Linked DNA regions of Homo sapiens. The protein of the gene in region 2 interacts with the protein of the main gene of each other region in a pairwise test. Each region holds a gene or a part of one and is shown on either strand. Other genes may lie near its edges.

Evidence for each region.
Region 1: the proteins of PRKD3 (region 2) and NUDT3 interact in a two-hybrid assay, tested with the Homo sapiens proteins (one large-scale study listed by BioGRID and IntAct).
Region 3: the proteins of PRKD3 (region 2) and MYH3 interact in a two-hybrid assay, tested with the Homo sapiens proteins (one large-scale study listed by BioGRID and IntAct).

Annotation. Positions count from the first base shown.
Region 1 is NC_000006.12:34,386,170-34,389,669, forward strand, and holds part of NUDT3 (diphosphoinositol polyphosphate phosphohydrolase 1), read right to left. Parts: intron 1-3,500. UniProt on the Homo sapiens protein: Cleaves a beta-phosphate from the diphosphate groups in PP-InsP5 (diphosphoinositol pentakisphosphate) and [PP]2-InsP4 (bisdiphosphoinositol tetrakisphosphate), suggesting that it may play a role in signal transduction.
Region 2 is NC_000002.12:37,272,730-37,276,468, reverse strand, and holds part of PRKD3 (serine/threonine-protein kinase D3), read left to right. Parts: intron 1-624; coding exon 625-702; intron 703-1,771; coding exon 1,772-2,048; intron 2,049-3,739. UniProt on the Homo sapiens protein: Converts transient diacylglycerol (DAG) signals into prolonged physiological effects, downstream of PKC. Involved in resistance to oxidative stress.
Region 3 is NC_000017.11:10,630,484-10,633,361, forward strand, and holds part of MYH3 (myosin-3), read right to left. Parts: intron 2,302-2,878; coding exon 1,993-2,301; intron 1,534-1,992; coding exon 1,330-1,533; intron 1,282-1,329; exon of another isoform or gene 1,254-1,281; coding exon 1,128-1,253; exon of another isoform or gene 1,098-1,127; intron 186-1,097; exon of another isoform or gene 149-185; intron 1-148. UniProt on the Homo sapiens protein: Muscle contraction.

The DNA.
Region 1 (3,500 bases), on a different chromosome or scaffold from region 2:
TACCAAGCTGGTTAAAGTGGTGGTTGGTTAAGAAACTGTATATCAGGTTCAAACTACTGTAATAAATGTTAGTTACCACAAATACCCAATTTAAAGATGTTATCAACATACCAATAACAATCAGTACAACTTTTTAAGTGGGAAGTTTTTTCCTGTTAATTTTTGTTTGTCAACAAGAAGAGAAGCCAGAAAAAGAAAAGGTAATCATTTTCATCATGCTGTTTGGTCTGTTTGTTCTTCCATCTCTCCCATTAGACTCTAAGCTCCCTGCATGTCTGTCTCCTTCATAACAGTATCACAGAACTTGGCACTCAATGAGTGTTCAATAAATTTGCTATGTTGACACATCCTAACCTGGATCAGAATTTCAGCCTCTCATTGCTGGTCTATAAATAAAGTTTTCTGGGGCTGGGGAAAAAAAAAACCTAGAATGATAGGTTTGGCTACCCATGATCTATTACCTTCTAATATAGTCATGGACTATATAACATTTCAGTCAACTACAGACCACATATACAAGAGTAGTCCCAAGAGATTATAATGGAGTTGAGAAATTCCTATCCCATCATAGCTGTGGTGTCACAGCACAATGCATTACTCATGTGTTTATGGTGAGTACACAATCAAACCTACTGTGCTGCCGGTCATATAAAAGTCTAGCACAGCTGAGCACGGTGGCTCATGCCTGTAATCCCAGCACTTAGGGAGGCTGAGGATGCAGATTGCCTTAGTCCAGGAGTTCAAGACCAGCCTGGGCAACATGCCGAAACCCTATCTCTACAAAAAAATACAAAAATTAGCCAGGCATGGTGGCATGTGCCTGGAGCCCCAGATACTTGTTGAGGTGGGAGGATCGCTTAAGCCCAGAAGGTCAAGGCTGCAGTGAGCTGTGATCACACCATTATACTCCAGCCTGGGCAACAGAGTAAGACCCTGTCTCAAAACAACAACAACAAAATGTAGCACATACAATTATGTGCAGTACATAATACTTGATAGTAAATGACTATTACTGGTTTCTGTATTTACTATACTGTACTTTTTATTGTTTAACTGTAGAGTGTATTCTATTTTTTTAAAAAGTTAATTGTAAAACAGTCTCAGAAGAAGGGATTGTTATCATAGGAGATGATAGCTCCACGCCTGTTACTCTCCTGAAGACCTCCCAGTGGGATAAGATGTGGAGGTGGAAGACAGTGATACTGATGATCCTGACCCTGTGTAGGCCTAGGTTAATGTGTGTTTGTGTCTTTGTTTTCAACCAAAGAAAAAGCTTAAAAAGTAAAATATGGGTAGCCAGAGGAACAAAAAGTAAAACAAACAAATACTAAATAATATTTTTAAATAAAGTTTCTAGAATAAAGATATAATGAAGAAAACATTAGCCAGGCATGGCGGCATACACCAGTTGTCCTAGCTGCTTGGGAGGCTGAGGTGGAAGGATCACTTGAGCCCAGGAATTCAAGACCAGCCTGGGGAACAGAGCAAGATCTCATCTCTTTTTAAAAAAAAAAAAAAAAAAAAAAAGTGATTTTAGTATGACAGGAAAGAAAGAGAAAAATATTGTTATATAGCTGTACAATGTGTTTTAAGCTAAGTATTACAAACGAGTCAGAATGTTAAAAAATGTAAAAGTTTATAAAGTAAAAAAATTACAGTAAGCTAAGGTTAATTTATTATCGAAGAAAAATAATTTTTTGATTTAGTGCAACCTAAGCTGTACAGTGTTTCTGTAGTGTACAGTAATGCCCTAGGCCTTCGCATTTACTCACCGCTCACTCACTGATGCACCCAGAGCAACTTCCAGTCATAATAAGTGTCCTGGTCAGGTGAACCATTTTTTATTTTTTGTACCGTATTTTTCCTGTACTTTGCTTGTTTAGATATGTTTAGATACACAAATACTACTGCATTACAATTGCCTATTTATTCAGTACAGTCACATGCTGTACAGTTTTGCAGCTTAGGAGCAATAGGCTATACCATATAGCCTACATGTGCAGTAGGCTATACCATCCAGGTATGTGTAAGTACATTCTATGATGTTTACACAACAACAAAATCACCTAATGATGCATTTCTCAGTACGTATCCCCAACGTTAAGCGACACATGGCTGTATTTTCATCTCTTTTTCTTCACATTCCATGTATGCTTCTTGACATTGCTTAAATTTATAAATCAAGGTCCTATTTATACTTATATTACTACTGTATTAATGCTAATAATATTCTGTAAACTATTCTATCTTGATTAAGGCCATTAGTGCCCATTAAAATTTTTTTTAATTGGGTTGAATGCCTTATTCGGTTGGAATTTTACATTCCCACAATGTGTGGCAGCTAATGCTTCTGGCACATCTACTGAGAACATAAAAGTTCTCCTGGAACTAACAAATTACTTCCCTTCCAACATAATTATATAATCTGAGAGTTGAAAAGCACCCTAGAGATTATTCTGTGGTCCAAAATCCCTCCCAATTAAGGAATCTCATCTAAAACTACTCAACTCTGTCTGCAAGAAGGGATGCTAATATTTAGATTCTCCATGACACAGCGCTGCAGCCATAGCAGGCTCTTTAATACATGCTTTTTGTTGTTTCTCATACATGTTTGTTGAACTGAACAAATCTAAAATGGACGTATTTCACTCATTTTATTTTTCTTCCCAGGCTTTAGCTGTAACACCCACTGAATCTGTAATTTAAAGCTTTGCATGATTCCTCGGCTCATTAGCCAACGTTCAAAAAGAAATTCAATAAAGGAAACTCAATGCATTAAAGAAACTCATTTTAACAGTTTAAAATTTTAAGCTCCTGGCCTGGCAAAGTGGCTCTTGCCTATAATCCCAGCATTTTGGGAGGCTGAGATGGGAGGATCTCTTGAGCCCAGGAGTTTGACAATAGCCTGGGCAACAAAGGGAGACCCTGTGATATGCTATGGCTCTGTGTCCCCACCCAAATCTCATCTCGATTTGTAATCACCACCTGTGGAGGGAGGGAACCTGTAATCCCTCCCATGTGTTGAGTGAGGGAGGTAACTGGATCATGGGGAGTTTCCCCCATGCGGTTCTCATGCTAGTGAATGCTCACGAAATCCAATGGTTTTACAAGTGTTTGGGAGTTCCTCCTTCCCTTCTCTCTCTCCTGCTGCCTTGTGAAGAAGGTTCTTACTTCCCCTTTGCCTTCTGCCATGATTGTAAGTTTCCTGAGGCTTCCCCAGCCATGTATAACTGTGAGTCAATTAAACCTCTTTCTTTATAAATTACTCAGTCTCAGGTATTTCTTTATAACAGTGTGAAAATGGACTAATACACCCTGTCTCTACATAAAATTTAAAAATCAACCAGATGTGGTGGCTTGTGCATGTAGTCCCAGCTACTTGGGAGGCTGAGACGGGAGGATTGCTTGAGCATAGGAGGTTGAGGCTGCAGTGAGCCATGATCACACCACTACACTCCAACCTGGGTGACACAGTAAGACCCTGTCTCAAAATAAATAAA
Region 2 (3,739 bases):
CACAGGAAATACAAATGACTCTTACACATAAGAACTTGATTTCATTTATAATAAAAGGAATATCACTTTAACCTTTCACTGAAATACCAGTGTTTATTTTTCAGTATAGCAAAGATCAAAAAGTTATTAACATACTGCATTAATGAGGGTGTGAGTAACTAGGGACTCTCATACGTTGCTGAAGAGACTATAAATTGGGTCAAATCTTGTGTAGAATAATATAACACTATCAGGCAAAATTACATGTGCACATGTCTGTTGACCCAGCAAATCAACTTCTAGAAATATAGCCTATAGGTAAATTACATATTTTTATGTGTGTGTGTGTATGTGTCATATATATATATGTATTCATGTGTGCATGTATGAAATTCTCTACAAGGATTCCCAGAAACCTGATAACATGCTTTGCCTGGAGTAAGGGTGAGGAGTGGGGATGAGTGATGGTGGAAGTGATACTTTTCACCATACATCCTTTTTATATCTTGAGAATTTTGAACCTCATGAATCTTAAAGTTATTCAAAAATACAAATTTATGAATGTAAATGAAGGGAAAAGTTAGGTACAAGCACTTTGGAGGAATCATTTTTGAACCTCACAGTTTTCCAATCTTCATTTTATAGAGAAAGAGGCATTATTGGAGACTTGACAGCAAATGTCTAACATTATTTCAGAATGAATCTGGATCAAAGTATTATAAGGTAAGGATTTTACACTTTAAAAAATATAAGCATTAAGATAGTGTATGTTTTTTTCAGATAATATTCATTAACTGTTATATTTGAATATATATGACTCTAGCTAGTATGGTTTATAGAAGTCACTGTTAGGTTCCTTGTTGAAGCAACTATTTCCCATACCAAATTTCACTCCCCCACAGCAGCTCTCCTTCCAGACTGTTTGTTGTTGTCGTGTATTTATTTATTTCTGGCTTGCCTGTCAGGTTGCTGCTGCTTTCCTTCTGGATACTCTGATTTAGATTAGACTGCTTAGAAAGTCCCATCATCATTGACTGTCCAGAAGAGGTCAGTGAGGTATTTAGTATTTCTCCCACCTTCCACCTTACCTTGGGTGCCAATTCCCAATTGCTTGTTTGGCTCTTAATCTCCTTTTTACAGTCTTCCTTGCTTGGCTTATTCCACGTTTTGCCACATCACAAACTGATAGCAAGCAAGATTATAACCAAGCAGTTAGGTCAGTAAGAGAGAATGGGAACTAATGGCTTGCTTTGAGCAGGTGTTTTTTTGTTTGTTTGTTTTTAGTAAGTTTTTTTTTTTGCCTTAGGAAGTGGACTAAAAATATAATGATTGCTACAGGTTACTCCAGTGGACAGAACCAGAATGGGAGTGGCTTAAACAACTGACCAAGATTCTGCTTTTTCTGCCATTATTTCTGCTTCTTACTTGCTTTGGGGCTATATCTTGTAGACTACAGTCACTAGATAAGTAGTTGTGAAGCTGAATTAATGACAGTTGGAAGTTACAAGTGTTGGATATAGTGGCAGATTACTCTCCTATATCTTCTTCCTTGCATCCTAATGATCTGCTACTGGCTTAGTTATCATAGTCCATGCTCTGCGTCTGGCATTGCTGGACATTGCAGCTCATTCAAGACAGGCCATGTCATAAGACTCAACTGTGTATTAAATGTTGCATACTTGTGTCCGTCTTAATGGCATTCATTGAAATGCATATCTCTGGTTCTTTAGTGTATTTAAAAATAAAAACAAAGATCTATTCTTATTTTTCAATGCTTAATTTTTTACTTCAGGAAATTCCACTTTCAGAAATTCTCCGCATATCTTCACCACGAGATTTCACAAACATTTCACAAGGCAGCAATCCACACTGTTTTGAAATCATTACTGATACTATGGTATACTTCGTTGGTGAGAACAATGGGGACAGCTCTCATAATCCTGTTCTTGCTGCCACTGGAGTTGGACTTGATGTAGCACAGAGCTGGGAAAAAGCAATTCGCCAAGCCCTCATGCCTGTTACTCCTCAAGCAAGTGTTTGCACTTCTCCAGGGCAAGGGAAAGATCACAGTAAGCAATAAACTTCTTGATGGCTTTTTCTCCTCTTTAATTCTTAAGCATTTTGTGGGTATGGTTGTGTTCCTTTGTTCCTTTTAATGTTCATCCTAAGCTTAGTCTTTAGTAACCAATACTTTAGTAACCAATACAATTAGTTAACTCTTTTATAAAATTATATTGGTTATAGTATATATACGTACATACAATGCCCAGTGCTAGGCTCCAGAGTCAGTTTTCCTACATGAAAATCCTGGCTATACCATCTGTTATATGATCAGGCAAGTACTTTACCTCACTGTAGTAGTAAGTACTTCATAAGGTTGTCAGTATTAAATGAAAGAGAACCTGTAAGATACAGAACAGTGCTTGGCATCCGTAAAGTCTCATTGGATTATGCCTGCTACTGGTATTAATATTTTGCTTTATAGTGGGATATAAACAGGCAATAAAGTATTATGGTTCACATCACACTCATGAAATCTGTGAAGTCAGAAATGCTGTATTAAAACATACAGAAATATTTAAAAATCACTGAAACATGTTTTGCACCAACAAAACTTATATAATTAAGCCTAAATTGGATAAAGTTTCAAAAGTAAACAGTTAACAATCGAAAGGTCACTATAATGTCACTTCTCCCCCATTAACATTATGTTGCTTATGGGGACACATAAGTCATTCATTTGAGAAATATACTCAAATTGAAATAAGTATCAACAACTTTCCAAAGGTAGTTTATTTTAGTTTAGCTGTATTATTTTGTACAACTATTATGCTAGGCCCTGAGCTAAAATACAAAATAAATACAGAAATCATAAAAGCTCTTTAGGGAGAGATGGGATATATAAAGGTATTAGATGGTAGCATAAAGCAGTACAGTGCAAAAGTGAGGAATACATTACTTAAAAAACTCAGATACAGACAGAAGAGTAAACAAGACTTCATAGAAGAACCTGATTTGAACCTCAGGTAGAAATACAGTAGGCAGATCTCAGTGGGAGGGGTGGAGGGGTAACATTATTTAGTTGAGACAAGTGTGATGAGGATCATGACAACTGTGTACATGTTTGGTGTTCAGTACTGATTTGGGGTTGGAATGGGTGTAAGTAGATGGATGTTTCACAGTGGTTCTTAAGTTTTCGAGGTTTTTAGACAGAACTCTATGTCATTCTAATTAAAACTAGGACTGTTTCCTCAGAAAACAATACAGGCACTTACACACTCTTTAAAAGATAAATGAGGTGATTTATTTCAGGCAATAAATGTATTAAAGTACCAAAAAACAACATTATAAAATTATAAAAATGCAAGCAATTTAGAAGTGTATAAAAACTCTTTGTCCCCCAACCCCACCTCTTCCACTCACCAAAAGTAATCACAGATTTTTGTTTTTAATTTAAGCACTGCTACCCTGCAATTCCCTTGACTCCACTTCCCCCCCTCCCCCCACCAAGAGACAGGGTCTCGCTATGTCGCCCAGGTGAGAGTGCAGTGCGCAAATCATAACTTGCTGCAACCTCAAACTCCAGGGCTCAGATCCTCCTGTCTCAGCCTCCTGAGTAGCTAGGACTACCGGTGCACACCACTATGCCTGGCTAATTTTAAAATTTTTTTAGAGATAGGGTATCCTGTAGCCCAGGTGGTCTCAAACTCCTGGGCTCAAGTGATCCTCCTGCCTCAGCGTCCTAATGCACTGGGATTAC
Region 3 (2,878 bases), on a different chromosome or scaffold from region 2:
GATGCAGAGGAAGCTCCAGTGCCTTGGAACTGTCAAAACCTGGGGACCTCGGAGGACCAGAGACCATGCTAAAGAAAAAGGACAGGCCAGGCGCGGTGGCTCACGTCTGTAATCCCAGCACTTTGGGAGGCCAAGGCGGGTGGATCACCTGAGGTCAGGAGTTCAAGACCAGCCTGCTCAACATGGTGAAAGCCCATCTCTACTAAAAATACAAAAAATTAGCTGGGCGTGGTGGCAGATGCCCGTATTCCCAGCTACTCCGGAGGCTGAGGCAGGAGAGTTGCTTGAACCCAGGAGGAGGAGGTTGCAGTGAGCCGAGATCTCGCCATTGCACTCCAGCCTGGTCAATAAGAGTGAAACTCCATCTCGGGGGTGGGGGAAGAAAGAAAGAAAGAAAAAGGACAACGGGTGAGACTGTGATGAAGCACACTCTGCCACCCTGGAAGAGGGCCAGAGCTACACCCAGTAGATAAAATAACCTAATCAATGAGGCAATGAGAACTTTAGCGACAGGCTGGGAAACAGTTTCTTCCCTTTCTTAAGCTGGCCTCCTTTGAAACTCTCCCCTGCCCCAGGGAAATTCTTTTTTCATTACCACCAATATATATTTTCAAAGGAGCTTGAGACTTAGAGTAGTCTGACTTGATACTCAGCCTCATAGATTTGGGGATAGTGAGATTAAGGGAAGGCCTCTGGAGAATTAAGGCTGTACAGGAACAACAAAATCGCTTCGAGGTAAAGTTCTCCCGCCAGGCAGCAGGTGGCGCCATTAGCGCGGTGGGCCGCCGGGAGAAAGCCTCGGAGACCCAGGAAGGGAAAAATGTGTGGGATATTAACACCTCAGGTTCTTGTTTTCATATTTGGAATAAGTCAGATGTTGAAGGAAAGACATGCACACCTCTCCACAGGCAGAACTACTAGGATATAATCCCTTCCTGCCTTTTTTTCTTATGCCCTTCTTCTAAAGTGCAGGAGGGAACAGGGGAGTTTGAGCGGAGATGGGAGCCCTCGGGGAGCAGAATGTGCACCAGGTGTGGCTGGGGGAGACCGCACCTGTCTAACTATGTGAGGGCTTTAATGCAATGCAATCCCGGCAGCCCGAGGGCAGCAGGAAGGAGACGCCTTACGTCCGTGATGGCCTTCTTGGCCTTCTCCTCAGCGTTCCTTGCATCCCTGCTGGCATCTTCTACCTCACTCTGGAGCTGCATGAGGTCTGTCTCCAGCTTCTTCTTGGTGTGGATGAGGCTGGTGTTCTAGGGCAAGAGGAGGGCTGTTAACCAGGTGCGTATGAGGCTGGAACCTCGCCTCTCTTCCTCTCCCTCCCCTCACCTGGGTATGCAGCAGCTGCACCCTCTCGTTGGAGTCCAGGAGCTCCTGTTCCGCCAGTTTCCGGGCCCTCTCCGTCTGCTCCAGAGTAGCCCGCAGCTCCTCCACCTCGGCCTGCAGCAGGTTGGCTCTGCGCTCCACAATCGCCAGCTGCTCCTTCAGGTCCTCCTGGCCCCGGAGGGCATCATCCAGGTGGAGCTGCGTATCCTAGCCAGAGAAAAACGAACATTCTATTTGAAGTTGAGGCGTTAGGACCACGAGCCTCATCTGCATCTCTGAGTTTTGTTTGTTTGTTTGTTTGTTTTTGTTTTGTTTTGTTTTGTTTGTTTTGAGACAGGGTCTTGTTCTGTCACCCAAGCTGGTGTGCAGTTGCGTGATCTCAGCTCACTGTAACCTCTGCCTCCTGGAAAGCAATCCTCCCATCTCAGCCTCCCAAGTAGCTGAGACCACAGGCTTGTGCCACCATGCCTAGCTAATTTTTATTTTTTTTGTAGAGATAAGGTTTTGCTATATTGCCCAGGCTGGTATCAAACTCCTGGGCTCAAGTGAGCCTCTTGCCTCAGTCTCCCAGAGCGCTGGGACTACAGGCGTGCACCACTGTGCCCAGCCTACATTTCTGAGTATGTGAGGAGGAGAGAGGTTTTTCCCCGATGGGTTCTCTCAAACCTTCAGCTGTCCCTGGACACTCCTGAGGTGTTTGAGGGTCTCCGCCGCCTGGCGGTTGGCGTGGCTCAGCTGGATCTCGATTTCATTCAGGTCCCCCTCCATCTTCTTCTTGAGCCGGATGGCTTCATTCCTGCTCCGCACCTCGGCGTCCAGGGCGCTCTGCATGGTTTCCACTGTTCTCTGGTAGTTCCTCTTCAGCTGCTCGATCTCTTCATCCTTCTCGGCGATCTTTCTATCAATTTCTGATTTCACTTGTGTCAATTCAAGCTGGATTCGGAGGATCTTGGCTTCTTCATGCTCAAGAGCAGCCTTTAAGAAACAAAAGCAAATCAAATAGTGTCTGTGATGGTATGGAGCCAGCTCCACTACCCTGCAGGATAACAAAACTTCAATGGAATAGTCCTAAATCTAATCCTACAATAGTCACAATTCACTTTTTAAATGTCCCCAAATTGGCCGGGTGCAGTGGTTCACACCTGTAATCCCAGCACTTTGGGAGGCCGAGGGGGGCAGATCACCTGAGGTCACGAGTTTGAGACCAGCCTGACCAATGTAGTGAAACCCTGTCTCTACTAAAAATACAAAAATTAGCCAGGCATGGTGGTGCCCGCCTGTAATCCCAGCTACTCGGGAGGCTGAGGCAGGAGAATCATTTGAACCCAGGAGACAGAGGTTGCAGTGGGCCTAGATTGCCAGCATGGGCAACAAGAGCAAAACTCTGTCTCAAGAAAAAAAAAGTCCCAAATTTATCTTCAGTGCAGAAATAAAAGCACGTTTCATTGCTTTTTGGTTTTGATTATACTATCAACCAATAATAATGTTTAAATCATATTTCTTAGGAGCATAAAGCACTTTCTAGATATTTTTAATTCATGTAATATTTTGT